Regions from separate parts of the Homo sapiens genome. Here all the other regions are reported to be linked to region 7. Evidence: microRNA targets listed by miRTarBase, many of them from high-throughput screens and not tested one by one. Region 7 holds a microRNA gene; each other region holds the end of a gene's coding sequence.

Region 1 (4,223 bases), not on the chromosome of region 7:
ATTAGAATGTTTAACCATCCTACTGTTGATCATAATCTCTCATGCTAAATTCATGTGGCAAAATCATTTGTTTAAAAACACCACTATCGGCTGGGCACAGTGGCTCACGCCTATAAGCCCAGCACTTTGGGAGGCCGAGGCAGGCAGATCATGAGATCAGGAGTTTGAGACCAGTCTGGCCAACATAGAGAAACCCCATCTCTACTAAAAACACAAAAAATTAGCAGGGCGTGGTGGTGGGCGCCTGTAATCCCAGCTACTCAGGAGGCTGAGGCAGGAGAATGGTGTGAACCTGGGAGGCAGAGGTTGCAGTAAGCCAAGATTGTGCCATTGCACTCCAGCCCAGGTGACAGTGTGAGACTCCGTCTCAAAACAAACAAACAAACCAAAAAAACCACTATCTTTTCACAATGAGCTTTAATATTTCAGGCCACAGCCAGTTTGCTGTATTCAAAAACAAAGAAGCAAACAAACATTAATGATATAATATCATTTTGGTGATGAAAAACCTGTGTATTATTCTTTCATGTTCTAAGAATCATAACAAAATCTAAAATGTTGGAAAGTTATAAAAAATTTATTTTCACTCCCCCCAAATCTAACTAAATTTTATGTTAAGTAAACACAAAATTACCATAGAAATGTATATGACCTGAAAATTAAAAAAAAAAACACCGTCAGTCACAGAATGTTTTATTTTAAACTTACTGTAAAACTTTCAAATACAACACATGTGGCAAAGAAACAACAGTTCACACACAACATCTGCCACAATTCTCTTTGAACTGCCATTTCTATATTATGTGATATTTTACAATTTCTTTCAATTTCTTACATTCATGGTATTCTTAAAGGCAGCAATGTCAATTTTTCTGCTTTGAAAATAGTTCAGTTAATGTTCTGAAATTGCTTAACATGACATTTTCCTTTTAGTATTCTACTGCTGCCCACACTGACATAATTCAACATATTATTTATAAACTGTTGAGAGGTATACTGTACTTAATAAATCAACTCCCAACTCTAAGTTAACCTCAATCTAAAACAAGCATTTTCTTAAACCAGTATACTCAGCTACTTTTCTCAAAAATATTTCCATTCTGAAATAAGATTTTTTGTGAGATACAATAGTTTCATCTTTTATTCCTAACAGAACTCATGCCGTACTTTTTTTCTCAAAATATATTTGATATATTCTGTGCAAAATGTTAAGTTCTGTATAGGCATGTACCTTATATTGAAAAAGTTTATAAAACATAATTCCTAAAAACAACCTCAACATTAGACAATAGAGGAAGGAAAAACATCAGACAAAGCCTAAGTTTTCACATGAGAAACTAAGTATGTTCTTAAAGCTCCAGTATTACATTCCTTGAAAAAACTCAGAATGCACTTTGGTCATTATTAAACATATTTGAACATAGGCAAATAAAATGAAATGCTTTCTGTTGTTTTTCATAGAAAGAAAAAACATACTACACAATGAGGCTGAATTGAGGCTGATCAAAAGGAATGGTAAGAGCAAAGTGATATGACATGGCTCTGTTCTCCACACATTCCTGATTTTAAGATTATGATTTAGGGATTAGAACTGCACCAATCAAATAAATTATTTACAATTAATCGTCTTAAAGTTCTTAAAATATGGTAAAAATATGAGGATATTCCACATGATACACTTTGCACCAAGAAAATTCTAGATTGTTTCAAATAAATTTTTAGAAACCAGATGCCCAGTTTAAAAAAAATTGCAAAAACTGTTTCATGTTTCATGTAATTTCTAAAATACTCGATTGTACAAATATAACAACTTAAAATCAAGGCCCAATGTAAGACACTATCATATTTGCCCGATTTACCTAACACACCAACATGATAAGTTCTCATTGGACACTTGGCAAATTATTTGTTGGGGAGGTTAAAAGCATCTAAAATAGCCCTTATATAATGGGGGTGGGGTGGGGAGAATGCACCAGATAAGTTTAGAGGATAGAATTTGCAAGCTGAAGCTGTCTTTTCTGAAAATTTGGATACAGTTTTACAACTAGCAATTAGAGAAATATTTTATTGGTTCTTAGCCTTATTCTTCAGTTGTTCATTTCAGTGTGGTATGAATAGCCTACACTAGAGTGTACCATGGGGAGAAAATTATTTACTTGAGTAAACATAATGTACTTTAGTAATATCAGTAGGCACTTCACTTGTGAGATGAGTATATACCTCACTCAAAAGGATACCATATCATGCCCTAGTATACTATAACAGATCCCATATAAAGATACGCATTAAAAGTAACAATTTTAAAAAGTGCACATTTTGAGCATGCACAGTTGGAGCTGTGCAAACAGCCCAGTGTTTCAAATAAATACAAGTATTACTAGTTAATTTTTATCAAAATATCTTACAGTATGGTAACCATTTACAATTATTGCTCTATTACAAGTTTTATCATCAAAGAGCACTTGTTGACCTGTTATATAATACCGTATATATTAATACTGAAGGGTGCTTAAACTGTAACTTAATCAGTTTGGATCCTGGCATTGTTCCAAAATAATTCAAGAGAAACCCTGACTGGATCTTGATTTACCAAAGAAAATGTTTTATGTGTATAGCTGAGTTCAATGCAATATTCCAAAGTTAAAGAATTTTTCCTCAAGTAAGGCAAGTTCACGGCATTGATGGAGAAACGGTGCTGAGCAATGGCTTCTATTTTCACAATTTGTTATTTTGCCAATTATTTATGACCAATTACCAGGATCTCAAGTATCTGGATATCAGTTTCATCACCCTTTCAACAACTAAGTACATCAATGCTTAAAAATAAAAATATAAAGACTAAAATAAATGTAAAAAAAAGTGAACCAGTAAAATAAATATAAGAATTGCACAAGACAGTCTGATGTAAACACTTCAACTCCCTAGCTGAGACTCCTGAAGCAAAGAATCAGTGACAAGCTTTCAGGCAGCTTAGTCAGTACTCTTATTCTGGAAAAGAGGCTACATCTTCTTTTCTTTGAATTGTCATGACTTAATCTTCCATAGCTAGAAAAAAAAAAATAGAAGTGGTGACAAGCCAGTTTTAATATCAAAGCTTAAATTATATCATATAACACCATTTTTAAATTCAAATTTCATTCACAAACAAGTGCAGTTTCTAATATTTTAACTCCTTTATCCTTTTAAGAAGAACTCACCTTAAACACAAACAAAAATGTGAAAATCAGATTTCTATTGCTTTCTCTTGAGAAGTGGCTATATATATATATATATATATATATATATATATACACAGTACTTGTTTAATATGATTATCTTACACCTTCCTAACAGTTAGTTGTGCATATATTGGAAGATGTATGCATTGCTATACAGATAAATAATACAACTTTTGGCCAAAAATAGAAATAAGGCTTTTTTCTTTTTTATCACCTAAATTAAAGCTTTATTAGTAAAAATAAATACTTCTTGCTAGGCGCGGTGGCTCACACCTGCAATCCCAGCACTCTGGGAGGCCAAGGTGGGTGTATCACTTGAGGTCAGGAGTTCGAGACCAGCCTGGCTAACATGGTGAAACACTGTCTCTACTAAAAATACAAAAATTGGCCAGGCGTGGTGGTGCACACCTGTAGTCCCAGCTACTTGGGAGGCTGAGGCAGGAGAAATCCTTGAACCCGGGAGGCAGAGGTTGCAGTGAGCCAAGGTCGCGCAACTGCACACCAGCCTGGGCAACAGAGCAGACTCCATCTCAAAATAAAAAATAAAAAAAACCAAATACTTCTACTTATCCTACACAAGACTTCTATTTATAATAAATACTGTTCCAAGTTAGAAATTCCTGCAGTATTATAAAACATAAATACATATAATTCTTTGAAATTAAATGTGAAATGTTCAATAATTGCAATCTTACCAAAATGACCGCATTACTGTGCATGTGAGGGTAAAATGGGCGCAACAAAAATGCAACAGGAAACTAAGAAATAAAAAGTACTTGCAACCTCTTACCTTTAAATTAAATCCAAGCAAGTCACTGATAACACCAGAAACAGCTGACAGGATAACAACCTGGGTGATGTTATAAAGCAGCGGATTCATTGTAAGCCCATATAATCTAAAAGGACTGTCCAACTCCTAGCAGAAGAGAAAAAAAAGTCAGTCCCAGATTCAAAAAGAATTACTAAGCTAATTCAGAACAATATACAATGAGAATTAAAAAACAC
Region 2 (4,223 bases), not on the chromosome of region 7:
CACTTTCCCACGCAGATCACTGTATTAACCTCTCCGCTCTGTCAACCGTAGCGTTAGGGGTTTTCCTTTGTCTTTCGATTTTGAAACTATGTCATCCACAGCCTGTCATCAATTTCCAAATTTCCAGCGTTTCTGAAAATTCTATAGCACATCAGTGTTATAAGGCATGCTATTAAGCTACATGGGTACACGTTTATCTTCATTTGTACACCTGTGGGTCGAACTTTGACACATGCCTGACTGCAGACCTGTGAATCTGTGCAGTGCACAGAATGTGCAGGGGCGTGGTGAAGACTGCACACATTTGGTGTGTTTGCACAGTGCGTAAACTCTTCGGGGCACGAGCTCTTAGGAGCGCAGGACTCCGCGCTTGGTGGGTGCAGGGGGCGCCAGTTGCCAGGAGTTGGTGGGGAGCCACAGTCTCCGGCTGGGTATGGGGGCTTGTCGGGCCTACGGCACTTGTTCCTCCCAGGGCAGAGCGGCTGTATCCGAGGCGGGTTTCTGGGGCTCAAGCCCCAACTCCCCAGCCGCCGGGCCGGCTAATAGCTCCCTGTCTGTCTCCCGCCCCGCCCGCTCCAGGTCTGGTTCCAGAACCGACGCGCCAAGTGGAAGAAGCGCAAAAAGACGACCAACGTGTTCCGTGCGCCCGGCACACTGCTGCCCACGCCAGGCCTGCCTCAGTTCCCGTCGGCTGCCGCCGCCGCTGCCGCCGCCATGGGCGACAGCCTGTGCTCTTTCCACGCCAACGACACCCGCTGGGCGGCGGCCGCCATGCCTGGCGTGTCACAGCTGCCTCTGCCGCCGGCGCTGGGCAGGCAGCAGGCCATGGCGCAGTCGCTGTCCCAGTGCAGCCTGGCGGCCGGTCCGCCGCCCAACTCCATGGGCCTGTCCAACAGCCTGGCGGGTTCCAACGGCGCGGGGCTGCAGTCGCACCTCTACCAGCCCGCCTTCCCCGGCATGGTGCCCGCCTCCCTCCCCGGCCCCAGCAACGTCTCCGGTTCGCCCCAGCTCTGCAGCTCCCCGGACAGCAGCGACGTGTGGCGGGGCACCAGCATCGCCTCCCTCCGCCGCAAGGCGCTAGAGCACACAGTCTCTATGAGCTTCACTTAATGCAGCCGCGCCCCGGCCCGCTCCGCCCCCAGCACCGCCCCGGGGGCCGCCCCGAGGCCCTTCCGGCGCGCACCCGGACCCCGGCGCCCTGCCCCGTCCCGCCCCGGCCTTCGCCCCGTCTCGTTTCGTCCTCGCCTCTCTCCTCCACTCGCTCGGGCTCACCCCAAGCCCCAGCCCGCGAGGCCTCCCCTCCGCCTGATTTCGATCGCCCGCGGTCCCCCGTCTCCCGGCCGCCCCTCTTCCCTTCCCACCCAGCTGCGCCCTCGGCTCGGTCTCCAGCGCCTCAGCCCACCCTTCCCGCCACCCTGGCCTCCCTGCTTGCGCTGGCCGTGCTCGCGCCCTCCTCCTGGCCTTCTGACGGGCGGCGTTCCCACCCACACCTTCGACGCGACGCCTACGACCCCCCTCGCCCGCCGCCTCCCCTCCGGTCCCCTCTTTCCCCACACTTCGCGACCCTCCTCCCGCGCCCGGCAAAAAGTATCCTTCCCGCCATTTTACGTACCAGGGAGTCGACTCAGGATCTGAAATCAGACACCAATGGACTGGTTTGTGGGCAGAAACACACACACTCGCACTCTCGCTCACGCTCAGACGCTACACACGCGCGCGCACAGACACGGTGCACCTAGGTCACACACGGACGTGTTCAAGGGACAGCACAATGTTAGGGATTTTTGTCTTAAAGGAGGACAAGCATTGCTACCAACCGCCTCATCTGAGGGCCCAACTGATATGATTTGATTTATCCTTGTACTCTCCAAGCTCCTGTCTTTCTTTCCTCTCCCACCACGCTACCCTTGCCCAGTCCACCCAGTCACATCCGTGCAGCCCTCTCTTGGCTTGCAAGATAACGCTTTTATTTTTATTTTATCTTATTTTCATTTTCTTAAGCACAACTGTGTGAGAGTGTAGAAGGGAAGGCTTCTCAGGAGGAACGTGACAGTGGATTGGGTGGCTGGAGTAGACTAAAGCAGTCATGTGACGAGGAAGAGGTGATCTGACCCATTTTGATAAGTCTTTATAAGGAAGAATAAAATAAACGTGTAAGCAAAATTTTCTTTTGTAAAAGCAAAAGCCACATCTCTTTTCTGGATCCTTCAGGACTGGGGTTTGTTTGCTTCCTTTTCTGTTTCTGTCTTCTCGCTGCTCTGTGCCCTTGGTTGTTTTGTGGTGGTCCTGTCGTCCCTCGTGCCCCTCGGCCACCTGCTGGCAGCCGATGGGGGCACTCGGACATCTACAACCCTGCAACTTTGTACAGAGAAACACAATCAGCTCTTTCTGCATGTGCTGGTCAAATCCAAACCCAGAGAACAGAAGCGCTTTCTAAGAATGAACAAATATGTGAAATAGGATGTTTTGTGTAGATAAAGCATTCTTGTTACATACTGGTCAATTTGTGATATGTTTTAACTTAATGTCTGTGTTTATTTATGGAATTCGGTTTTCTTAATAAATGTTTGAGCTAATATAAAGCATATTATTTGACTTTTCCGGACAAGTTTATATCAAGTTAAATGTAAATGGATAAAATAAAATCATTTTCAGTATGTGATATAGAGAATGATGGGTTTTGGTGTGACCTTGAACGGCGGGAGGGGTCTCGTGGGGGGAGGGGAGGGGCCGGTCTTGGGAATGGTTATATTCGCGCCAGTTGGAACGCGTGGGCCCTTCGCCCTGCAGTGGGCTTGGGTTCGGTTTCTGGGCTGCAAGGTGAGGTCTCCGCGACGGGGCGGCATGCTGGGGCGCCGCGAGCGCCTCACGCAAGCTCTGAGCCTCCCGAGGTTTCCGGGCCAACCCAGGTTTCCCAGGTGGGACTCCGAGCGTCGCTGTCGGCACGAAACGCAGGGCGCGAGAGTTCCTCAGATGAACGGTGTCCCTGGGGCAGTGGCGCGGAGGGCGCCCCTCGCGGGCTGCGTGCGCGTGATGGGGAGGCCGTGGGTGGGAGGGGACCACAATTCGCACCCTCGGCCTTCAGAGCCTGGAGTTCTGCTCTCCGGCGCCGCCCCAGCCGTGTCTGGCCCCAGGTACGCGGTGGAAGCTAGGCCGCGGCTCTTGCCTCCTCCGGGGCCTAGGCCTCTTTGGGGCCTTCCCTAAGGCCACGGCGCCCCTTCATGTCCCCAGACCCGGGATCCGCTTCAGATACCCGGGACCTCCCAAGTAAGGGACAAACGCGCTTCTCCAGAAGAGGCGTGTCCGGGACGACCAGCACCTACCAGGGCTCCCCCAACCCCGGGGCTGCTCTGGTTTCCTGTCAGGGTCCCTGCTGGCTGCGTACTAACCTCGACTTCAGGCACGTGCTCAGGGGACTGCCCCAAAGGAGTAGGAAAAAAATGCCGTTTCTTCGGTCGGCCGAGGGGAAGGTTTGCGGTGTGTTTTAAACTTGGAGGCAAATCGATATCACAGGCTTCCTTGGGAAGGCTAACCGAAATCAATCTTGTGGTTTGAAATTTAATGGTCATTATAGGCATTGAGAGGGCACCCCTTTTCCCACGGGAAGACTTCTCATTTGGTTGCCTCAGAGTGTAAACCCTAAAAAATACCCTCCTGCTAAAATACAATACAGCTGGGCTACATGTGAATTTGAGGAGCTGTTGTAATCGTTACTCAACTAAGAGAACACAATGGAATCTCCTCAGAGATGAGAACAAAAAGCTATGATTTTTAATGATAAAGTAAATCTGTTCATGTTACCTTAGGAATTTTAATTAGAGGTAAACTGGTGGGTGGGTTCACAGAATATTTCAGTTATACACTTTCCTAAAGACTATTTTTAGTACATTAAAATATTAAAGAAGAGAAAACATGCTCATTTTGAATTTCATACAAGAACGGAACATTTCTGTATTTGAGAACTCATCCAAGAATTCAGCAGCACACAACCACCAAATTTCTAAAATATGAGTTAATGAAAAATACTTTTCCTTGTTTTTGCATTTCATCATATTCTCGCTTGTTTTATGTTAGTGCTTTTTTTTAAAAAAAATTGAAATCGTGGATACTGTAATCTCAAGTCACATTTAAGAGATCAGTACAAATTACGGATTGCTTCACCAGTGCTCATGGAATGTTGTTTACAAGGATGCCAATTTTACAGCTTTTTATGCTGCTATAAA
Region 3 (4,223 bases), not on the chromosome of region 7:
TCCAGCTGAGCCGGAAGTTCCCTGGAAATCTCACTCAAGGTCTATTGGAAACCTCATTTGGGATCCAGCAGGATGACTGCTGATTCCCTGTCTGTGGGCAAAGCTTCCAGATTATAGGGATAAGGAAGAGGCTATTGAAATAATTATAGACTAATAGCTAGGAAGCACATGTTTTAGGAGGAATGACATGACTACACTACACTCACTGATCCCACCGGCCAAGATATCTCCCACATGTGTCTGTCACACATCAAAGCACGTTGCCGTTACACTGCCATCTGGGTCCCCTCTTGGGCCCCCCCATGCTTGCTCCGTAGACCTGCTCTAGGTCCACCTGGCCTCCTTTCTTTGCCCACCCTTTCTTTCTTGTGCAAAGGCCCTGAGGCGGCAGAGTATTTGGCATATTTGAGCAACAGCAAGGTGGTCACTGAAGCTGGGGTGGATTGAGGGAGGGGAGAGAGGTGGGACGTGAGTCTGGCTGGCCCTAGAATATAACCTGGACATGACACAGGCCAGTGTCACCGCTGTGGCAGGCACTGCCTGCAGAAAGTCAGTTAGCCAGGGGCTCAGTAGCAGGGTCTGTGCTTCTTCCTGCAGAAAACAGGCCAGTGCCAGCCCAGCGTGCCCTGTGCCTAACCACAGGCAGAGCCTCTCCCCAGAGCCAGTCCCCGTGAAACTCACAGCGTGCTTCTGTGTTGGTATACAGGAATCCGAGCGGCTGGAACTCATGAACGCAGAGCTGAAGACCCAGATTGAGGAGCTGAAGCAGGAGCGGCAGCAGCTCATCCTGATGCTGAACCGACACCGCCCCACCTGCATCGTCCGGACCGACAGTGTCAAGACCCCCGAGTCAGAAGGCAACCCACTGCTCGAGCAGCTCGAGAAGAAGTGACCATGGGCTGGGAGGAGGTGGAGGAGGAGGAAGAGGAGAAGGAAAAGTGACGAAGAGAGAGGAGGAGGGGGGCCCCAGATGGCCCTTCCTTTGGTGCATGAAAAACTGTACAATGAGGTTCAGCACAGCCAGCATCAGCCGAGCTTTTTTGTGAAACTCAGATCAGCCACCCAGGAGGAAGAGCGGGCTGAGGAAACCCAGAGGGACCAAGCGCTGAGACCAAAGTTGACCCTCGGGTAGGGTTGTCCTGCCTGGGGCCCCACTTGAAGGAGGCAGGACAGAGGCACCGAGGCCAGGGAGACGCCCAACGAGGCAGCCCTGGGCTCTTCTCTGGCCTCTTCACCAGGGCACCCATCCAAGGAACCTCCGAACAGCCAGGAAAAGCCATGAGTTGCAACCAAAACGCGGCTGAGGATGGAACTCAGAATGAAACTGCAACCCACCTGCCCCCAGCCCTGCCCCTCGCCCTGATGCGAAGCTGGAGAGGGGCGTGCTGCGGGGCCCTGATGCCCCCACCCACCTCGGTCCAGCGCGGCCCTGCCCAGGAGGCGGCAGCCGGGCGCACCCTCGCCAGCCCTGCTGGAGTTTGCTGTGGGCACTGAGGCGCGGGCGCCCTTCCAAAGCACATACTCACCGAATGTTTACAGACTGGCTGTCCTGGCAGGGCTTTCAACTGCACATGTTTTTTATACTTTCCTTTTTTTTTTTTTTTTTAATATTTTTTACAAAAAAAAAGATTTTATACAAGCAATATATATATGGATTTCTATAATCACTCGATGTGATACAGTATAAATATGCTATGGTTTGTTTGTTATGAACAGATAGCCACCAGTTACGGCCGTTGTGTGTAACTCCTAAGTACTGTAGTCTCTGGGTGTCGGGGGTGGCCAGGGCGGGGGCGGGGTGCATTTCCATCCTTGTAAACCCTTCATAGTACTCAGTCCTGTATCGCTCAGTAAACATTGCTCTTACTTACATAGCCGCCTTGCGTGGTGTCTGCCTGGGGAATGGGTGCAAGGCCCTCTCAGGGTCGGAGACTGTTTGGAGCCTCTGCTATAGGCCTGTTCATTTTCACAACAGCTCTCCTATTTCACAGATGAGGAAGCTAAGGCTCAGAGACATTAAGCCACCTGCAGTTACTATTTTGAGAGCAGTCAGAGTGTTCGCTCACTCTGCAGATGTTTTCTGAGGGCCTGTTGTGTGTGCCAGGCCCTGAGAATTCACTGGAGGATGAAACAGACCTAAGTCTTGCCCTTGTGGGGCCTCCAGTAAGGAGTGAATCCTGTGCTTGCTCCATAAGTTGTCTCATTTCGTCTTCATGGCAGCCTTGCCAGGGAACAGCACTTGTCCCCAATTCACAGATGGCGAATTAGAGGTCCAGGGAATTAAACTCGCAGACACCATTTGTTGAAGACTTATTTTGTGACAAGCAGACATAGTCTCTTCCCTTCTCACAAGAGCACAAACTAGGCACGATTCTTCTCATTTTACAGATGGTTTAACTGAGGCTCAGAGAAGGTAAGCGACTTATCCAAGGTAACCCAGCTAGCAAGGGATAGAGCTGGTGTTTGAACTCTCCCTCCAGAGGCCTGTGACTCTCCTCCTGTCACCAACCCACTATGATTGTCCTCATGGTTGAATAGGAAGCTTATGAGGCCACAGTTATAGATTTAGTTTCTGGGAAGGCTGGATAGAGTTCCAGGTTGTCCCATGATCACAGAGTGAACCAACTACCCTGGTCAATGTGTGTCTGACCCAGGGAAGGGTGTGGATGGCTTCTCTGCCCCCTCACCTCGACAGCTGAATCCCTGCCACCCAGGGCCGGAGCAGCTCAGTGGCATTCACTCAGTGCCTGCTGTGTACCTGGCACTCGGCAGTTCTCAAGGCATGTCACGCATGAGGAAGGCGGGAGAGGTGTTTTTAGCTTCCTTGTATACTGAAGCTTGCAAAGGCTACAGTTTACCCAACTAAACTTGACTCCTGCATTCTAATCATGTGTTCTTTCTCCTCCATCCCTGGACTTAGGATAACTAGTTGCTGGTGATGACTTCGTGTCAAGAACAGCAGTGAACCTGGGTTGCTTCCCAAATTGTGGACGAGGCCTTCTGGGATGGGCAGAAGTGGAGAATGGTGATTAACACACCTGTGATCCCTCCCTCGCTCACTCCTCTCAGTTTCCCTCCACCCAACACACTTGGTGTGGACTCCCCTGCACCCCGCCCTAGAAACAGGACCTGGTCCTCTCACTGTCAGCTGTGGCAGAAGGTTGTGGCAGCGGGTTGCCTTCTGTCTCGGGGGTCTTGAGGCTGTCGGTCCGGACGATGCAGGTGAGGCAGTGTCAGTTCTGCATCAGGAACCCCTCGCGCTGTAATCCTTTGATATTTTTCAAGCCATGAGAAAAATGAAGTGGACTTACCAGGGTCCCTCCAGTGACCTAGTGGATGTTCTTACAGGACTGCCGTGTGCCACTGGCTGTGGCTTCCCTGGTCCTGTGCTTGGCCACCGGGAGCTGGCATCTCCAAAATAGAGCCTCCTTAGCCTGTGCAGGTGGGCTGTCTTCCAAAGTCACCACACCAGTGACTTGTGCTGTGCGGAGCCTTCCTCACCAGGACCACTGGCTGCTCCTGTGGCTAGAAGTCACAATTATAGGCTTCATTGCAAGAGCCAGCATTTGAGTTTCTTCTGGGCACCTGCCACTGTGCATGTGTGACCTCAACTGCTTTGTGCACCCTGACTGGGGGGTAGGTGCTAGCGTTCCAACATTACAGATGAGAAAACCGAGGCACACAGAAGAGGTAACCTGCCCAAGGTCACAGGTGTTAGGTGGCAGAGCCAAGATGTTATTGTCAGTCTGACTTCAGGTGCATAAAACCTGAGGCTGAGCCTCCCCATGAGAGGAAAAATGTGTTTGTGGTGTGACCTCAGTTGCCAGGGAACTTGTGCAGGAAGCCGGGAGAGATGGCACAGACCCACCTGTGCTCACAGTACATGTTAAGAATTCCCAAGTCTCAGGCAAACCATCTCCAAGGGTGTTCACAGAAGACACACCTTAAAGGCAAACGGGTTCATGATGTAATCTTCTATTGACTAGCTGTGAACCTCATTTTTCTTATCTGTGAAGTGGGAACAGTAATAATCCAAGTCTTTTTATGGAGTTATCAAGATCAAAAAAGGAATGGATATACAAAGTGTTTTGTGAAATAAAAGCTCCCTAAAATGGTAATTATTTTGTCCTCTGTTAGTGTCGGTAGTTATTGATATCTACATAGTACAGGTTATTTAAATATGTTTTATTCTGTAAAGATGGGCTGCCAAGTTTGTGTTCTGA
Region 4 (4,090 bases), not on the chromosome of region 7:
ACACAGAGAAGTTTTTTATGAAGTCATACCAATCTTTCCCTTTATAGTTGCTACTTTTGCTATCATAAAAAGGACCTTTCCTATCCAAGATTATATTATCCCATTGTATTTTTTCTTTTATGGTTTCTTTTTTAACTCTAAAATCCAAAATTCATCTGGCGTTTATTCTGCCGTAGCTTGTGGGTGAGACTTTAAATTACTGTTAAAATATTTGATGATGCTGTTAACTGAATCAGCATTGATCCAAGGTATATGCATAGTTTTATAATTTTTTTTTAGTACATGAGCTTTAATACCTTTTGAAAACTTACTTACACTTATAAAACTATTAATTTGCCATAAAATTGTCCCGGTTGACAGTTGGAAATATTAAACATAAAGGTATCTTTTTCTCCCTAGGGTATAGAACTTGACCAGTTAGACTTACGAAGAGATATTGCCTACAACTTGTCTCTCATCTATCAGAGCAGTGGGAATACCGGAATGGCTCAAACGCTTTTGTATACCTATTGTTCTATATAAAGCACCGCAACTGAGAACAGAGCAATGGCAGCTGCTGTGTGAGGACCAGTGTCTTCTGTCTCAGGGCTTATTATTTGTAACTCCAAAATAGAAATGACAATTTCAGAATTACCTAACAAACAGTGTATTTATTTTTAATATGTGATAATGATCTTGTGGTATATATGCAAAATTATTCCTACAAAAATTTGTATATTGGTCTGTCATTTTCCTTTCACATTCTATAGTGAATTGTTCCCAATGTTGAAATGGACGTGTAAGCCTTTGAGCTAGCTTGGAGTCGAATACACTATTTTTCACTCACACCATTTATTCATCTTTGTATTTAATACTATAGCTCTGTCAATATCACATGAGGCAGTTTTTCAAATACGTATAAACAGAGGTTGCTTATTATTAAAGGAAAGACAAAGTGGGACTCTTTATGATGTCATGACCATGATAACTAAGCACCTAAGAAAATTATTTAAAATAGTTATGTGGTAGGCAGAAAGACAAATAATTTAGTTTTTTACTTTTCACCAGCATGTATCTTAGCTACCTAAACTGAAACATGGGAGGCTGGGCTTAATTCAAAATATATTGCTCCAAGGCAAATAAAAAAATGCTTTATCTATATTTGTGGCTTTCTGATGAAAAAATAGAGAAGAGCTTGTTCAATAACAGGACATGGTTTCCATTTCAAGATCACAAGTAATATAAGACTGGGCAAGTAGTACGTATGGAATAAAGGACATACTGCTGATTGATAAAGTAAAAAACTTTTTTTTTGTTTGTTTACTCATCTCCACTATTTATTATATGTTCTTGAATTTAAGTTAACAGTACTTTTTAGATGATATACTGTTAGCTTAATAACAACTTTTTAGGGAAAAATAAATGCTGTAATTAATGTGCACATGGGTTAGTAACACCCAGCCCAATTGTGGGAGGGAAACAAGTAGAGGCTTAGGATCAAAGAAATAAAATTGGGACTTATTAGAAATTCTTACCACTGTTTCTACTGTACACAAAACTTTCTAGTTGAGCAGAATTTGTATGCAATAAGTAAATATATTGTATACTCCATGTGTATAATTTAAATGCATTTTATTTTTATAATTGAGGTTAACTGTTTCACATGCTTAATTTTTACTTTATGCCATTTATAGGTAATGGTAGAGGTAACTGAGATACAGTAATAAGTTAGACTTGTGTGTTGGAATTCTGTGGAACTGAGCATTCTGTGCTCCGAGTTTCTCTCTTAAATTAGCTCACTGGACTGTGGCTCCAGTGTCTACTAAATAGCCGTGGAGGAAATAAGTCTCCCTAAGGGAAAAAAAAACCAGCTGATATTGTATAGTTTTGTTTAGCTTTTAAAATCATAGCTTCCATTTGCTGAGTTTTTACTCTGCTACTGTATGCTAAGTATGGTGCTAAACACTTTGGATATGTTATCTCTGATTCTCTCAGGGAACTGCAAGGTAGTTATTATTGATATTGTCATCACCACTTTGTATCTAGAGATTAAATAGCATGTTCAAGATCACTAGTAAGCTGCTCCTTGCTCAGAGATTTTCCTTCAGAAGAACACAGTTGCTGTAGTTCAGAGTAACAACAAACATTAAGCATAAGGTTTGTTTTTTTTTTTTCTTTTGAGACGGAGTCTCACTCTGTCTCCAGGCTGGAGTCCAGTGGCATGATCTCTGCTCACTGCTACCTCCACCTCCCAGGTTCAAGCGATTCTCCTGCCTCAGCCTCCCGAGTAGCTGGGACTACAGGTGCCTGCCACCACCTCCAGCTAATTTTTGTATTTTTAGTAGAGACAGGGTTTCACCATGTTGGCCAAGATGGTCTCGATCTCTTGACCTCGTAATTCGCCCGCCTCGGCCTCCCAAAGTGCTGGGATTACAGGTGTGAGCCACTGCACCCAGCCAAGCATAAGTTTATTTTAGAAAGAAAAAAGACATTGGCAGTGTTTCTGTCTTCCAGGCCTTCAGCCCATCAAAGCCCCTGTATAAAAACATCTTTTGGGGTCTCTTTTTAAAAGCTCCTATTCTCTTACCTCCCATCCTCACCTTAGCAGTGGGGTCCTGGTACCTGTTTTATGCACTGAGACTCTGCTGCTCCTGCATGATCACAGTTGATCGAGGAGGGAGTCTGCTCCTGAACCAACCTGGGCCAATCAGGAGTTTCCTCCCGCCTTCCCTGGGAATTTCAGACTTGAAATAGTTCATGTAGGGCCAGAACTTCAGAACAATGAGGCCAACTAGCAGTTAACCCGTTCTGTTGAAAAAAAAAAAAAAAGTGAGGTGTCTGCATTAAGAGAAGTAAAGATGAGCGAAGGAGAGTTCTCTCTGAAGTCCCAGAGATTTCCAGTTTTCAGTTCTATCCTCAGGCCAGCTGCCTTCTTACCCTTGGATTCGTTCTAGGAGATAGCCTTGATTCTGTTATAGTTTCCACTTTAATATTTACACCAGCTTGGGTTTTTCTGTTAAATGCACATACAAAAAATTTTGACCTGATCGACCACCATTCCATCTTTCTTTTAATTTAGCATTACTGCTTTCTAGCCATTTTCATAGGAAGAAAGTATAAAGCAAACAGAAATGAATATAAAAATTTGTTGCTGAATTACAAGTAGTGTCACGAAGTCTAATCCACAATAAACAGGCTTTTCAAAATCATTCAGAGCAAGAACAGGAGGAATGTTCCTGCTGTGGTGTTGTAAAGCTAATAGTATTATAATACTATAGTTCATATTGAAAGAATATATACTCCAACATAATACTGAACAGGGTAGGAAAGGAGTTAATGGCCAAGATATTGGGTGAGGATATGAGTAAGGGGGGACTAGAAATGAACTGCATCTCCAGGCCCATAGTCCCTATACTAATGGCTATGCTATGAAACTGCAAATTAGAATTTTGAGGCATTCTCAGAAGAAAATGACCAAATGAACTGAATTTTTTAAGTGGGCAAAAGGTGGATTCTGGAAACCACTTGGGCATGTTAGTGCTGGCATGATTCCAGCCATCTGTGTGTTCTTTGAAGTGATGTTCCTTAGGATACTTACTCTTTTTTTCCAAGCAAAAAGGCCAGCTGCCTTCTCACCCTTGGATTCATTCTAGAATCCAGATAGATTCTTTGATTCTTTGATCAGGATATCCTTGATTCTATAATAACTTCCACTTCAATCTTTTAGGAGATACACTCTTTTTGCTTGGTACTAGACTGGTGGTTCTGAGGACTATCTTACATTTTATGTATCTGGGTTTTAGCAGAGTCTGTGAGGAAGACTGCTGTGATATGCTTATGGATTGAATGGGAAAGTGTGGCTGGTTCTTCAGCCGGTAGAATGACCGAACTCAAAGAATGCATGTTGACAGACTGATGTAGACTGGAGAGAAACTGCAAATGACATGCCACCATGTTCATTAACGACTTAGGTGACAATATAAGGCATGGTCAAATTTGCATGGAGGGAAACTAGAAGTTATAATAAATACCAATACTAATGAATTAATGAAAAATCTCAACAATGTTATTAAACTGAACTGGGGTCTGCTTGCCCAGCATGGTAAGGCCA
Region 5 (4,220 bases), not on the chromosome of region 7:
CTGGACTCGTGCCTCCTTCCTGCAGACACCATACTTTTACTAATGCACCCTAATATTACGTTTTTGGCAACCCCATGATGTTAATTATGACACATTGAGTTTGCAGTAAAGAAAAACCACAGGTGGCCGGGCGCGGTGGCTCACACCTGTAATCCCAGCACTTTGGGAGGCTGAGGTGGGCGGATCACCTGAGGTCAGGAGTTCCAGAACCAGCCTAGCCAATATGGTGACGCCCCATCTCTACTAAAAATACAAAAATTAGCTGGGCATGGTGGCGGGCGCCTGTATTCCCAGCTACTCAGGTTGAGGCAGGAGAATCACTTGAACCCAGGAGGCAGAGGTTGCAGTGAGCCAAGATTGCACCATTGCACTCCAGCCTGGGCGACAGAGCAAGGCTCCATCTCAAAAAAAAAAAAGAACGAAAAAAAGCAGGCATTTTTTGTTGTGCTTTTATGTTATTTAAACACAAGCTGCCAAGTGGTCTCCCTACCTGAAGCTGTGTGGCCCCATTTTTTTTTTTTTTTTTTTAGATGGAGTCTTTCTCTGTCGCCCAGGCTGGAATGCAGTGGCACGATTTCGGCTCACTGCAACCTCCATCTCCCGGGTTCAAGCAATTCCCCTTCCTCAGCCTCCCGAGTAGCTGGGACTACAGGCGCACATCACCATGCCCAGGTAATTTTTGTATTTTTAGTAGGGACGGGGTTTCACCATGTTGACCAGGCTGGTCTTGAACTCCTGACCTCAAATGATCCACCCACGTCAGCCTCCCAAAGTGCTGGGATTACAGGCGTGAGCCACCGCACCCGGCTTGTGGCTACATTTTTGCAGACATTCACCTTGAGGCCGTATCTCACCTTGTTTGTTTTGGCCCATTTTCTTGTCAACATATTCTCAACAAGTAGGAGCCAAAATATTCTGTAACATAAGATGAATGCAATTTCCGTCATATCCATTCTGAGTCCCAAGGACCCTCGGAATCCTAAGGCATCTTTCTCTCTTGCCCCAAACATCTGAAGGTTACACTTTCCCCCTCCACTGCCCCTAAACCACCAATGTCAAATAGGTGCTCTTTTTTCCTGGCCCTAGGGGAGCTACCCAAATTTTCAACAGGCATACACAGAACAAGTGTCCACATGGCTTCCATATTTCATGCCATCTTCTCACACTCCAGCACACCTCAGCTACCTCTGTTCTTAGCTACATTATGGAGCCCCACCTGCTCCACCTCACCCTGTAAAACTCACTCCCTGGCAGAGTTTGCTCCATATTGGCCAATGAGCAGCTGGAATAGCTGAGATGCAACTTTGTGCTTGAAGAAAACCCACATCTACCCTAAGGAATTTAGGATACTTAGTACACAGTAAATTCCTGTTAGTGAATCTCCAAACAACGTCCAAACTGCCCCTGGCATTTCTTTCATTTCCCCATAAAGTTTCTGTGACCTTATGGCATTCACCTTGCTCCTATCAACATTTTCCCCTTTAGTTTGGTTTTTGTTTTTCTTGTCTTTTTGTTTGACCCTGAGGTTTCTCAGTTTGGACACAGAGTCTCTAACTTACTATTGTTCAAGACTAGTTCGGGCATATCCCTTGATTGCAGTTCCTGTGTTTCTTCCCACTTCTGTGGCTTGTGGTTTCTCAGTAACAAAAGGGACCCTCCACCGAGGGTGGAGGATCCAAGTTGTTGTTGGCTGCAGAATGACAGCCTCTGGCTTGTGATCCCTTCAAATGGTCATGTGATGAGTCAGTGTTTCTATTATTCTCCCAAAGGTCCCTTCGTGCAGAGGCCTGGAGTGATGCTAGTTCATCAGCGCCTACATGGAATGGAGCTGTTCCAGTTGGCTACAGCCACGCTCCAAAGACAACCTTTCACCCCTAGAGAGGTGATTAATGGTGTTTAAGAGGGGATGTGGGAGTATGGCAGCAGAACATCAGTTTCCAAAGTTGGAATTCAATCCCGAGTGAATACACCCAAGAGTGTACAAAACAAAAAATCAGCAAAACATAGCAAGGACTCCACAGGCTTCCAAATTCAAGACAAGTCATTGACAACCTTCTTCTCAATAGCAGGTCTCAGCAGCTGCAGGTCAGACCACAAAAGTGCCCCAGAATGATCATCCCACCACATTCTGTCTTTCTGATTATGACACCTTATAGTCAGCGCTCCCATCTAGGATTAAATTTTTAAAATAATCACAATGTGGAGACTGTTGCTTGCCTGCCTCATTAAAGCTGGCCTCTGGCAGGGGGGCAGGCCCTTTCAAATTCAAACTATGACTTCTAGAATTCAAATCACAGTGTTGGGTTTCCAGTTCAACCTGTGGTTTTTGAGAGGCTGATTATTTTTTGTTAAGACCCTTATCCCCCACCCGCAGAACTCTCAGAAGAGTAAGGGGAAAAAAAGGTAATAAAACACAAGGAATTCCTTCAGGGAAGGAAACTTCCTCCAGAAGACCCTCAAACCAGGGATGCTTCTTAGCTCTTTTCTTTTTAAGCTAGAATCTCTCAAAACCACAATTTGAACTTGCAACCACAATTTTCCTGACACTGTATCAAAGGCTGGTCTTAAAGGAGCCACCAATATGCCTAGTATCAACCCTACTCCACCGTGGGGACAGAGCAGCCTTTCTTCCCACCGGATCACTGAGAGAAACGTGGTCCCAGACATTGGCCCACCAAGCTGAAAAGAAGACAGGCTTTGTTTGCCAGACAGAAGAGTGAATCCCATATGTGCCCTACTCCTGCTGTATTCTCAAACCAAAAGCACCAAAGGTTCACTTGATTAGATCAGAGGAAACAAAATGAGGGTCCAAAGGGCATGTGGCAACAAGCAGCTGGGAGGTACATGAGGAGCTACTAGGTGGCCTGGGGGCTAGATGACTGGACACTGCACACAGAGCTGGCTATAAAACCAGGAAAGGCAGTCCAGGCAACCCCCAGGCCCAGCAGGTTACCGACAGAGGCAAGTAAGAATCAAATGGTGTCAAGGACAACCAAAAAGACCAGTGAATTTCTAAGCCCATCATCCTTGGGATCCCATCAAACAATCACGTGATGAAGAAGAGGTATAGATGTCTTCACTTTCACTACTTGAAAAGAGCTGTTCTAACAGCAAGGGCAAGTGAATGCAACAACTGCCATAAAAGGGAGGATACTGCCTAAGTTCGCAGTAAATTAAGAATAGTTAACCTGGAGTCCTGGATAGCTGGGCAGGGTGAATAAAAGCAAAAACAAATGTACCTTTCTTCTTATATTCTACTTTATTTGGTAAAACTCAGAAACTAACAATTCACATCCTCCCACCTTCTTCTTTCCGAAGAAGGCAGTTTGCAGAGACAAAAGGGCTGTGGCGTGGGGATCATCCACCATCTCCAGGTTTTACACCCAGGCTACCCATGGCTTGGCAGTCAGGCCTCTAGGCCTGATGCTCTCAGAGGCAATAGAAGAAAAGTAAAAGGAAGGTCTCACTTCACAGACAATGAAACCCTCCTAACCCTCTTCCCCACTACCCACAACTCCCTACACTGCCAATCTAAATAAAAAGAGGACAATGCATGAGTGTGAGATACACATACACACACACACATACACACACACACACGCACAGCTTCCTTTCAGCCAAAGAACTGCAAAATCCTTCCCCGGAAGGAGGACAACTGGCAACACCAATCAAGGCTTGGTGGTCTAAGGTGATGGCTGGAATCATGTGAGACTGGTAAAAATCCAGGGAGAAAATGTTTCACCTTCAGCTCATTCCCAAGTCTCTATGAAGCCCGCCCCACTTCCACATAGGGGAACTGTGGCTCTGGGGGCAGCTGGCTTAGGGAAAGGCCTCCCATGGCCAAGAAGACGATGGTGGAGAGGAGGGGGAGGGCAGCAGGGCAAAGCCTTTGGGGAGGGTCAGCAAAGGGGCCCCCTGCCCTTGGCTAATGGATCCGAGTTAGCTCCTCCACAACCTTGATGAGGTCGTCTGCAGTGGCCTCTCGCTTCATACCGCTGCCATCGTCATACTGCAATGAGAAGATGGGCGGGGCTGTGAGGACCAAGAGGGTGCTCTCCCACAGGTGGGGAAGGGAATGCCCCCAGTGAAGGAGGCACAAGACTCCACCATTGTCATGGCAGAGGAAGGACTCACCAGAAACCCACGCCTCCCCCTGGGTGGCACAGGTCAGCAAGGACACCACCTGGTCTATTTCTCCCTCTTCAAGATTCTCCCTCTTC
Region 6 (4,223 bases), not on the chromosome of region 7:
GCTAAACACTCAAAAGGGCTCTCTGACTCAAGTGGAGGTGATAAACCTTTTCAATAGTAACAGGAGAGAGTGTGATATCAAAGTGCCAGAAGTCCTCACGGACCAACATTTAGCACAGACATTCAAACTGCTGAAAGAACCAAACAGAACTCAACTGAAAAAAACAGACCTTTTAAGAAAAGCAATAGATCTTAATTTGGTGGCAAGATCCCTGGTTTACCTTTTGAAGTCAAAATGTTCAATACATCACCCGAGCTTGACTTTTGAGCACTTGGCAAGATTGTTTTTTGCCACTTGACACAAGTATGATGTCCAGCTATGCAAAATGACTGTTTGATCTGCCTTTTCAGTGTATTTGTGTGGCGATGTCTGTAAAATGCCAGAAGCCTCTTATGTTATTGCTGCTGCTGCTACCAGCCAGCAACTGCAGAGGCCATGCTGAGGTGCCTCCTTGCCACCAGCCGTTGGGAAATGCCTACCATGCTGCCCCGGATGCACAAGCTCAAAACGCTGCAGAAGTTACACAACTGCTCCCATAATCTGGACTCTCCAAAACCGTGATGCCACGAAGGAAGGTCAAGTTTTAAAATGTTAAAGACTGCTTGCCTCTGTTCCTGAGACTAAACAGTATACATACTAACTACATTGACAAAGAAATCCTATCTGATAATGTAGCCCGCTGACGAATTTTGAAGCCTCGGTTACCCTAACCAATATGTAGCTTTTAATTTGCATCAAAACTTTTACAAAGATGTTTTGCTATTGTTTCTATATACTTCAAGAATGTTCATTTTTACAAATAAGTTGAACAAGACAGCCTAAGTTAGATGCACCGAAGTACTAGAAATATCGCTAGCCTCTGTTCTCCAGTTTAGCTTTCAAAACCAAATGAGCCATGTATAAAGGAGTTGAGAAACTTAATTTTTAAATGTTTCATTTGCAGAGTTTTATATCCATTAAGTGCCTTTGAAAGTTTCCAGTTGTGTGGGCTGCTGTCTCACCTCCCACCAATTTCTCCTTTCTCCATATGGTGCTAAAACCTCAAAGCTGAGGAGGGCTGCAGGACCCTTAGCAGATTCAGTGTGTCACCCTTGTCCTGTGTTCACGCCAAGGCTTCCTAAATGAAAGACATCGGTTACCTGCTTATGGGAAGGTGAGCAGCAAAGGAATTGAAGTTCGGGACAGGGTAGAATTATGGGTTTTCATTGTGTTTCATGCCAAACCCACAAAATCCAAAATAGAATTCAAGTTAAACAAACTTCTACTACAAAATGGAAGGGGAAAAAGGCTCAGGAAGGTCTATGAGAATGAGCTGACTTATCTCGTTAAATCTTAAGATAAATGAGGGTAACCCAAGGCTGCACCTTGGTGTACCACCCTGAGTGGAGTTGAGGTGACTTCATTTGATTGCTTCAGGCGAACTATATAGGTCAAGTCCAGATTATAAAAAAATTATCTGCAGAACAAATTGTAAACCCAAGGAATAGCTGGTAAATCAAAATTATAAAGTGAGTTAGAGTTCCTTGGAGTTGGTTGTATGACGGAATATGACTTGGACAATCTTTACCAGAAGCCATCCGTAAGCCCCTCAGTCACACTTTCCATGTAGCTGACCAGTGACTACAGGATGTGGCTGACAGTGCTCACTGAAAGGAGAGTTGGTGCGGGACTGGTGGTTCTGAGCACATAGACGCCTATTAGTCCTTCTGGTCAGTGAACGAAAATTCTAGACCTACAGTTACTGGCTACTTGCATTTGTCAGTTTAGAGAAAAGGTAAAATGAGGCATTTTCAATTGTAGAATAGACTAACATTTACCACAGAAGTGCTTCAGCATTCTAAATGGATTAGATCACTCATTAAGCTATTTTTATATGCCAATTTACTAATGCCTTACATCAATCCACTAATAGGTTGTTGGGCCCGCAGTAGAGTCCCTATGCAGTCCCAATTCTGTTTTCTGTAACCATGTGACTGGTGATGCAGAGTGATAACCATGTCTGCCTATCTTGTACTAGACTCTTCATGCTGATCGGATCTTGCATTGAAATAACCATGTGGAAGAACAATGAATCGATTAATGATGACATGTACAACCATATTTAAAGAGCAATAGTGTCCGTGTGTCATGAAAAACTTATTTGTAAACGTTTATATGGTATGATTTTGATTTTATGTATGTTCATAAATCCTGCACTGTATGATATATGTGAGTTAAAACATTGGTGCATGAATTTATTTTCAAAGTATAAAACACATCACTTAAACATTTTATGTGTCAAATAAAATTTGATTATGTAAACACATTTGTTGACTTTTGTTTCCACAGTAAACAAACAAACAGCTGCACCATCAGCTGAAAAAAACCCTTCTAAAAGCACAAGCTACCATTCGCTGGTTGAAGCAGTTTACCCACTGTGTGCATTTTTAATCTGCTGCAATTTCATGAAATGAAAATACCAAAGCATATTTTAAGTCTATAAGCTTTATTGATACTTTGCTTTTACAGTTCACAATGCATTCCACAGATTTAGTTCAGTACAGCTTAAACCACAATGGTATAAATCTTCATTTTGTAATTAATAATTTCTTGCATAACAATGTTTGATATTTGCAAACAAACAACATTTTTGGAAGCATTAGATTCAGTCCATAGATTCTGTGACAAAATTAACTACAGTCAGTCTGTGCAATGAAATTGATGTTGGAGTTCTATGTGTGTGGCATTTCATGTTGAAAACAGATGGTAGTGCTCCTAGAAATATTTCTTCTTCTAGCTTATGTGCTTTGGAACTACACATGTATAACCAATGACTGACTCTGAAATATCAAGCACTGTGGGGTGGCTGGAAGGTAAAGGTCTAAGCTTTGTGAAACACTATACATATATAATCTATATTTACTTATATTGGCAATTAATATAACAGTAAAAGTCACAATACACCTAGAACATACCAGAAAAGCAAGCTTTGTCATTCCTGCTTTACCGGTATGATCTCGTCTAAACAAACATTTCATTTCAGAAAATCTGCATCAATCTACACGGACCATACACAGTGCACAAACTGAAAAGGGCTTTTTTTTTTTTTTTTCTAGCTCCACCATCTCTGCAACTTGCCAAGATGCGGCAAGACTATCTGCAACAAAGTAAAATATACAGGTTTTTTATTCCACCAGTGCCTCAGATAGATAGGAAAAAGATATGATTACGGTTTAAATCCATACATAGCAGCTTACAATACTTAAGATGATGAACACATGGCAGTCAAGACAGGTAATTTTTCCTCACAACAGTGCATGGCTAAAAATAAAGATCTAACAACGATCTGTGAAACTGCACTGCAACGTCAAGGTTCGTTCTTCCCTGACCCTCCCCCGTATAATCAAATGAATATCCCCTTTAAAGATGAACTCCTACTAATTATTTTGGGCGTTTTCATTCAGCTTTGCGCTTCAATCCAGGGATTTTTGCTTGGATTCTGAAAATGAAAAAGTCAATGTAAATATCAGTTTTGTTTGCTGCTGCTTAAAATACCATCTTCCAAGAACTACTTGTATGTTATTCAGCTAATACAATAAATGAAATCCTTAAAGCTGCCTAATTCTAAGCTATAATTTTGCCACCTTGGCCTCATGAATTAGATTTAAACAAAGCCTTAAACACATAATAAACCCAGAAACGAATGGTCCAAATGTTAGAAAAACAATCTTTTGGCAACTCTGAAGTCACACTTAAGGTCTGATAGAGATTTGTTACTCATTATGCCTGCAATATGAAAATACTGTTCTCACAATCCAGCACACCTTATCCTAGTAAAAACACTGCAGATTTTAAATACTTACTTAGCCATAGCATCTTTAACATTCTTATTTGCAAGTCCTAGATAATGATCTATCTGTGCCTGAAAGAGAGGTATAAAGGAATTATTACCGTTGCTAAAGAATCTTATTAACCACTACTATGTGTCAAGCTAAAGGCTTAAGAAACCATCACACTTCTCATTTTTGTAAGACATTGAAAATGGGCACTAATACATCCGTAAATCCCATGTAATAGAGTGAGTGCTCTATTCTGAAGTCAGCAGTTAGTTAGGAAATTACCTGATGCCGTTCATAAATAACAGGAACACTGAAGAGTGAAATGAGAGCTGAAAAGGGAAATATACAACTTTTCAAAAAGAACGGAATGATTTGGGAGGAATAAACACTCAAAAAACTATTAAA
Region 7 (4,223 bases):
TTACCCTCAGAGGATGCTCAGTGTTTGATGAATAAATAATGATTGACAGAGAATTTGGATTCAGAGCTCATAGTACAGAGTTCTCTGCAGCCTCACATGACCCCCAACAAACATGAATGCTACTGCTCTTAACACTACTACTGGGGAGAGAAAGAGTCCTCTGATTACTATCGTAAAAAGAGAAGGTCACTTAACACAAATATGGGACAGAGAAATGACGGGGAGAAGGAGTATGCAACTTGGCAATGATACCTAATCTCTCCCTTTAAGGGCACAAATTCCACTTCTCACACAGACACACAGACAGCAGGCATGGAGTTCACTTTAGCACCTCTACTCTTCATAAGGCATTTCAGACATTTTTTTTTCCCTTCTAAAATTTCTGAGCTAATAGGGATCCTGGAGAACATACTGTCTAGTACACTTTCCTCATTTGACCTTTGAGAAAAACAGGGTCCAGAGAGATTAGGGTAACATCTCACCCCAGTAGCTGAATCTGGGGAAAAGTTCCAGTTTCCAGACTTTAAATCCAGTGCTCTATAATGATCTGGCTGCCTCTCTGCCCTCATCAAGCTCTGCCCATCCAAAAACCTAAGGGGCACTGTCTTGCTGGATGGGCATCCTCAGCAGCTCACAGACCTGGCCCTGCTGAGGCTGTGCGATGATGATCTGCCCAGGCTGGATGGTGGTCGTGGAGCTGGTGGTCTGCTGGCCTTGCTGCTGGCCCTGGACTTGGACAGCGGTGGGTTGCTGAGCCAGCGTGAAATAGTACTGGACTGGCTCGGCAGGAGTTACAGACTGGCGCACCTCCTCCTGTTGGGTGGAAAGAGAGGCAGGTAAGAGGAAAAGAACCAACTCAGCAGCCGCCACAGTGAATTTCCACTCTTCCCCCAAACAGGCTATGTGCAGTTGCCTGCTGAATGCTGAGCTCTCCACATTTGAAGCCAAAGGAAAGTGGAATTCAAAGAGACCAGTTATGCTAAATCAAACTAAAAATAACAGATCCTATAGGCTTCACAAAACATACAGCCAATTTCTGAAGTACGAAATAATCACCCATTGCATGATAAGTTGCAAACGGGCAAATAAGTACCGTAACTAAAAACCACACACCAGCAGTGCTTGTCAGTAAATGCTGTCAAGGCCTGTGATCTGAGAACAGTGCTAATTGCAAGTGTTGGGAAGATGCTACCCAAACATCATGCCTCTCAGGCCTGGTCCCAATCTCCCAAATAGGCAGCACTCTTCTCGTTTTAGCCCCACCACTTCAAGGGGGACAGAACAGGTTAATGGGAAACAGGGCTTTTCCTGAGCTGAAATTTCAGGATCGAGAGCACTGGTAGGCAAGTACCCAGCTTTTCACAGCTTGTTGAAAGCTCTGTGGTCACTGAGGGCATGTCTATCCAGTGTCACATCTGGTTCTGGTTGTACTTAGCCACAGAAGCGCAACCCAGGGGGCCTGATGGACAGCTCTCCGCTGGGGTACTGCCTTGGCTGATTAGGGAGGTCGCATTCTGTCCGATCTGCGGAGTGGAGACTGTTCCTTCTTCAGCTGATGTTTTCCATGGCAGAAGGAGTAAACAACCCTCTCCCAGCCACCTTGAGCTCACAGCTGAGAGTGTAGGATGTTTACACACACTACAGCATGGTTATAGCCCACAGGGTCCAGGGTTGATCAGCCCCTGACCACTGACACAGAACGGCGTCTGATCCGGAGTGACCTGTGTGACACATGGTGCCCCTGCCTGGGACAACAAAAACAATAAAAACACAGAACCACTTGGGCTGGCTGAGTAAAAATATTAGCTAAATTTACTCATGTCCTTATTCAGGGCAAAGTTTGCCACGTTCCAGAAAAGAGGAAAAGACACTTCTTAGATGTACACAGACCCTGTGGATTGCCTCCAACTCCCCAAAGTAACATTTACAAAGCTGGTATTGACCCCATCCCCACACTATGTTAGGTGCCCTCAACTGTGCTTCCAAAGTACTGTCCTCACAGTATACATTTTTGCACTTGCATGTCAAATTAACTGTCTGTTCTACTAAAATGTTAAGCACCATGAGGGCAAAGCCTAGCTCTCTCTTGCTCTCTGCTATCCCCCGCGTTCCCAGGTAGGCACTCAGTAAGTGCGTGATGAATGATGAATGGATTTAGACAGGCAGACAGTTAGAGGCAGGAAAGTAGTTCTCTGAATCCAACTTGCTGATATGACAAATTCTCTTAAACCCAACAGCTGTTACCAATAGAAAAAAGTAGTCTCTAAACTCTCTTTTGGTACCTCTAAGACTCTGTGGCCACAGTGTGAGGAAGCAGCTAGTGTCCCCTGTGGAACAGAGCTGAGTATCCTTTGTTTGCCTGATGTCTGGGGGCTAGGATACTAAAACTAGGACTGCCAGTATCTACCCCTGAGAAACATGGGTCTCTGCATGACATGGTTACTTGACAGCCATCTACCCAGCTTAGGGAGATACCTGTAACATTCTGGGTTTCTAAGTTAATATATGAACTGACTTTTTAGGTTGATATAGTCTGTGCTTCAGACACAAATAGTTTTAACCCTCAATATGATTATGCTAAGGCAGAAGGAAAAGGAGATTCCCTTTTATTTTCATCTAGGTCTCAATTTCCACAACAATTTCAACCCCAACTTATCATCATTATAAATAAATGTCAGCCTGGAAACTAGGTATTGGCTGTGGCAAAGCTAAAATACTGATACCTTTTGCAGCCAAGAAACAGAAGCCAACTGCTCTTTGCAAAGCTATTGAAGTAGGTTCAAGGTACTTGTGTTCCACTGAGATCTCCCTTATTATTTTACAAAAAGCACAAATCACTGAAATCCAGACCTAACTTGGAAAAGCTCTTGGGTAATGAGAGGGTATACAGGAATGAGAGCCTCAGAACCAGCTGTGTAGGAAGCTAGGCAGCAGGGAGACACCTGCATTTTCTAGCCGTGACCTGTGATTGTTTAGTCTCCAGTTATCCCCAACTACAGCTGATCTAGTATTGAATATGATCTTTTTGTCAGACAAAAAGCAAACCCTTTAAAAACCCCTTCCAGAACCCAAAATATCTCTTGCCAAAAGCTGTGAGAGCAGGACAAGAGCTCCTCCTATGCTGCTTACTACATCCTCTTAAACTGTTTATGAACTAGACAGTATCTAGGACACTGAGAATCAAGTGGAGGCACCTAGGTTTGTGTTGTTAGGACAAGGCACAACTGTTCTCAAATCACTGGAATGGAAGAAGGCATATCTAAGGCTCTTCTGCATTATGAAGACTCATTCTGCCAATGGAGGTCAAGCCAGCAAGGAAATGATTATGCTTGGTTTAAAGAAATGGGTGAAAAGATAATGACATTTCAATGGGCAGGAACTTTCAACTCAATAGCTTTAGTGGGGCAGAAGTCAGGCCTCAACTACCTCCTACCTTCAAATAATCTTTACTTGCTTCTCTGAAGAACAAGCGAAACTCTCAAGTATCTTTGAGAAGTCAGGGCCTTGGACTCACAATTCAGTATTTCTGACTAGTTCCTTTTCCCAGCAGTGGGAGGTTGCCCCAAGTGGCAGAACAATGCTTTAATGACTGGATCAATCCAGAATGGGGCACTTGCTCAACTTTAGCAGTGGCCTCCCCAACTACAGGGCTTGCTCTTGGAATCTTTCCAGAAGCTGAGACTGACGAACAGTGCCAGAGAAGAGCAGCATCACATCCTAGGGCCATCTCTACAGTGTTGTGCAACCAGCCCTGACTGGAAAAAAGTACATTCGCTTTAGTAGCAAGAGTGAACTGCTGCCTCCTTCAGAAAGGGTGGGTTTTGGAGAGTAGGCGTTTTAAAGGACTTTAGGAGGTGCCAGCCAATTTGAAGCCTGGGAAAACTTCATGTCTACAGAGGATTAAAAATGCTATCTTAGAATTTCAGGCCAGCTTTCAGCAATCTCAACCTTTCAAAGGCCAGGCAGCAGCTGTCCCGAATACGATGCCAATCAATGCCTCGAACACCTACAAAGAACTAAATCCAAGCAACAAGAAGCTGTTTCAGCTAGACACACTTTAAAATCAGATGGATCATAGCATTTTGAGTCTGGCTAAGATGGAATAAGGAGCTGTATGACACCCCGAGAGACCCAGAAGCACTGAGGAATTTGGAGGAACTGACAGGATGTGACCCTTCTCTCCAGCCAGTGTATTCAGCAGGCAGCCCACAGAAAACAAGGAG

What was found. Region 7 holds the annotated microRNA hsa-miR-30c-5p (UGUAAACAUCCUACACUCUCAGC, at 1,612-1,634, opposite strand). A microRNA usually pairs through its seed, bases 2 to 8, with sites in the 3' UTR of a target mRNA and lowers its output. Matches are read on the target gene's strand: a 7mer-m8 pairs with bases 2 to 8, a 7mer-A1 pairs with bases 2 to 7 and ends in A, and an 8mer does both.
Region 1: miRTarBase lists PHTF2 as a target of hsa-miR-30c-5p. Seed matches in the 3' UTR shown: 8mer at 2,904-2,911 and 7mer-m8 at 2,161-2,167.
Region 2: the mRNA of OTP is a reported target of hsa-miR-30c-5p. The part of its 3' UTR that is shown has no 7-base or 8-base seed match.
Region 3: the mRNA of JDP2 is a reported target of hsa-miR-30c-5p. Seed matches in the 3' UTR shown: 8mer at 1,531-1,538.
Region 4: the mRNA of GTF3C3 is a reported target of hsa-miR-30c-5p. Seed matches in the 3' UTR shown: 7mer-m8 at 1,297-1,303.
Region 5: miRTarBase lists DDB1 as a target of hsa-miR-30c-5p. The part of its 3' UTR that is shown has no 7-base or 8-base seed match.
Region 6: the mRNA of RTN4 is a reported target of hsa-miR-30c-5p. The part of its 3' UTR that is shown has no 7-base or 8-base seed match.

The regions. Positions count from the first base shown.
Region 1 is chr7:77,953,680-77,957,902 of GRCh38, reverse strand. It overlaps PHTF2 (putative homeodomain transcription factor 2), which reads right to left. Exons shown (of 19, transcript NM_001395272.1): 18 at 4,009-4,134; 19 at 678-3,045. The coding sequence ends at 3,025. Among named protein-coding and RNA genes, the nearest start is that of DDX3ILA1, 35 kb to the left of the region's middle.
Region 2 is chr5:77,627,151-77,631,373 of GRCh38, reverse strand. OTP (orthopedia homeobox) reads left to right here. Exons shown (of 3, transcript NM_032109.3): 3 at 580-2,662. The coding sequence ends at 1,110. OTP-AS1 (OTP antisense RNA 1) reads right to left here and starts at 1,703. Exons shown (of 2, transcript NR_198942.1): 1 at 1,613-1,703. RefSeq lists enhancers at 665-714, 2,472-3,037 and a silencer at 885-1,324.
Region 3 is chr14:75,468,584-75,472,806 of GRCh38, forward strand. JDP2 (Jun dimerization protein 2) reads left to right here. Exons shown (of 4, transcript NM_001135048.2): 4 at 707-4,223. The coding sequence ends at 892. Among named protein-coding and RNA genes, the nearest start is that of JDP2, 43 kb to the left of the region's middle.
Region 4 is chr2:196,760,995-196,765,084 of GRCh38, reverse strand. GTF3C3 (general transcription factor IIIC subunit 3) reads left to right here. Exons shown (of 18, transcript NM_012086.5): 18 at 400-2,050. The coding sequence ends at 522. Among named protein-coding and RNA genes, the nearest start is that of GTF3C3, 37 kb to the left of the region's middle.
Region 5 is chr11:61,296,211-61,300,430 of GRCh38, forward strand. DDB1 (damage specific DNA binding protein 1) reads right to left here. Exons shown (of 27, transcript NM_001923.5): 27 at 3,241-4,009. The coding sequence ends at 3,926. Among named protein-coding and RNA genes, the nearest start is that of VWCE, 3.0 kb to the left of the region's middle. RefSeq lists an enhancer at 3,912-4,220.
Region 6 is chr2:54,969,721-54,973,943 of GRCh38, forward strand. RTN4 (reticulon 4) reads right to left here. Exons shown (of 9, transcript NM_020532.5): 7 at 4,101-4,147; 8 at 3,843-3,901; 9 at 2,469-3,478. The coding sequence ends at 3,436. It overlaps EML6 (EMAP like 6), which reads left to right. Exons shown (of 42, transcript NM_001039753.4): 42 at 351-2,305. The coding sequence ends at 375. Among named protein-coding and RNA genes, the nearest start is that of RTN4, 79 kb to the right of the region's middle.
Region 7 is chr1:40,754,711-40,758,933 of GRCh38, reverse strand. It overlaps MIR30C1 (microRNA 30c-1), which reads right to left and starts at 1,650; the gene lies at 1,562-1,650. It overlaps NFYC (nuclear transcription factor Y subunit gamma), which reads right to left. Exons shown (of 10, transcript NM_014223.5): 6 at 640-813.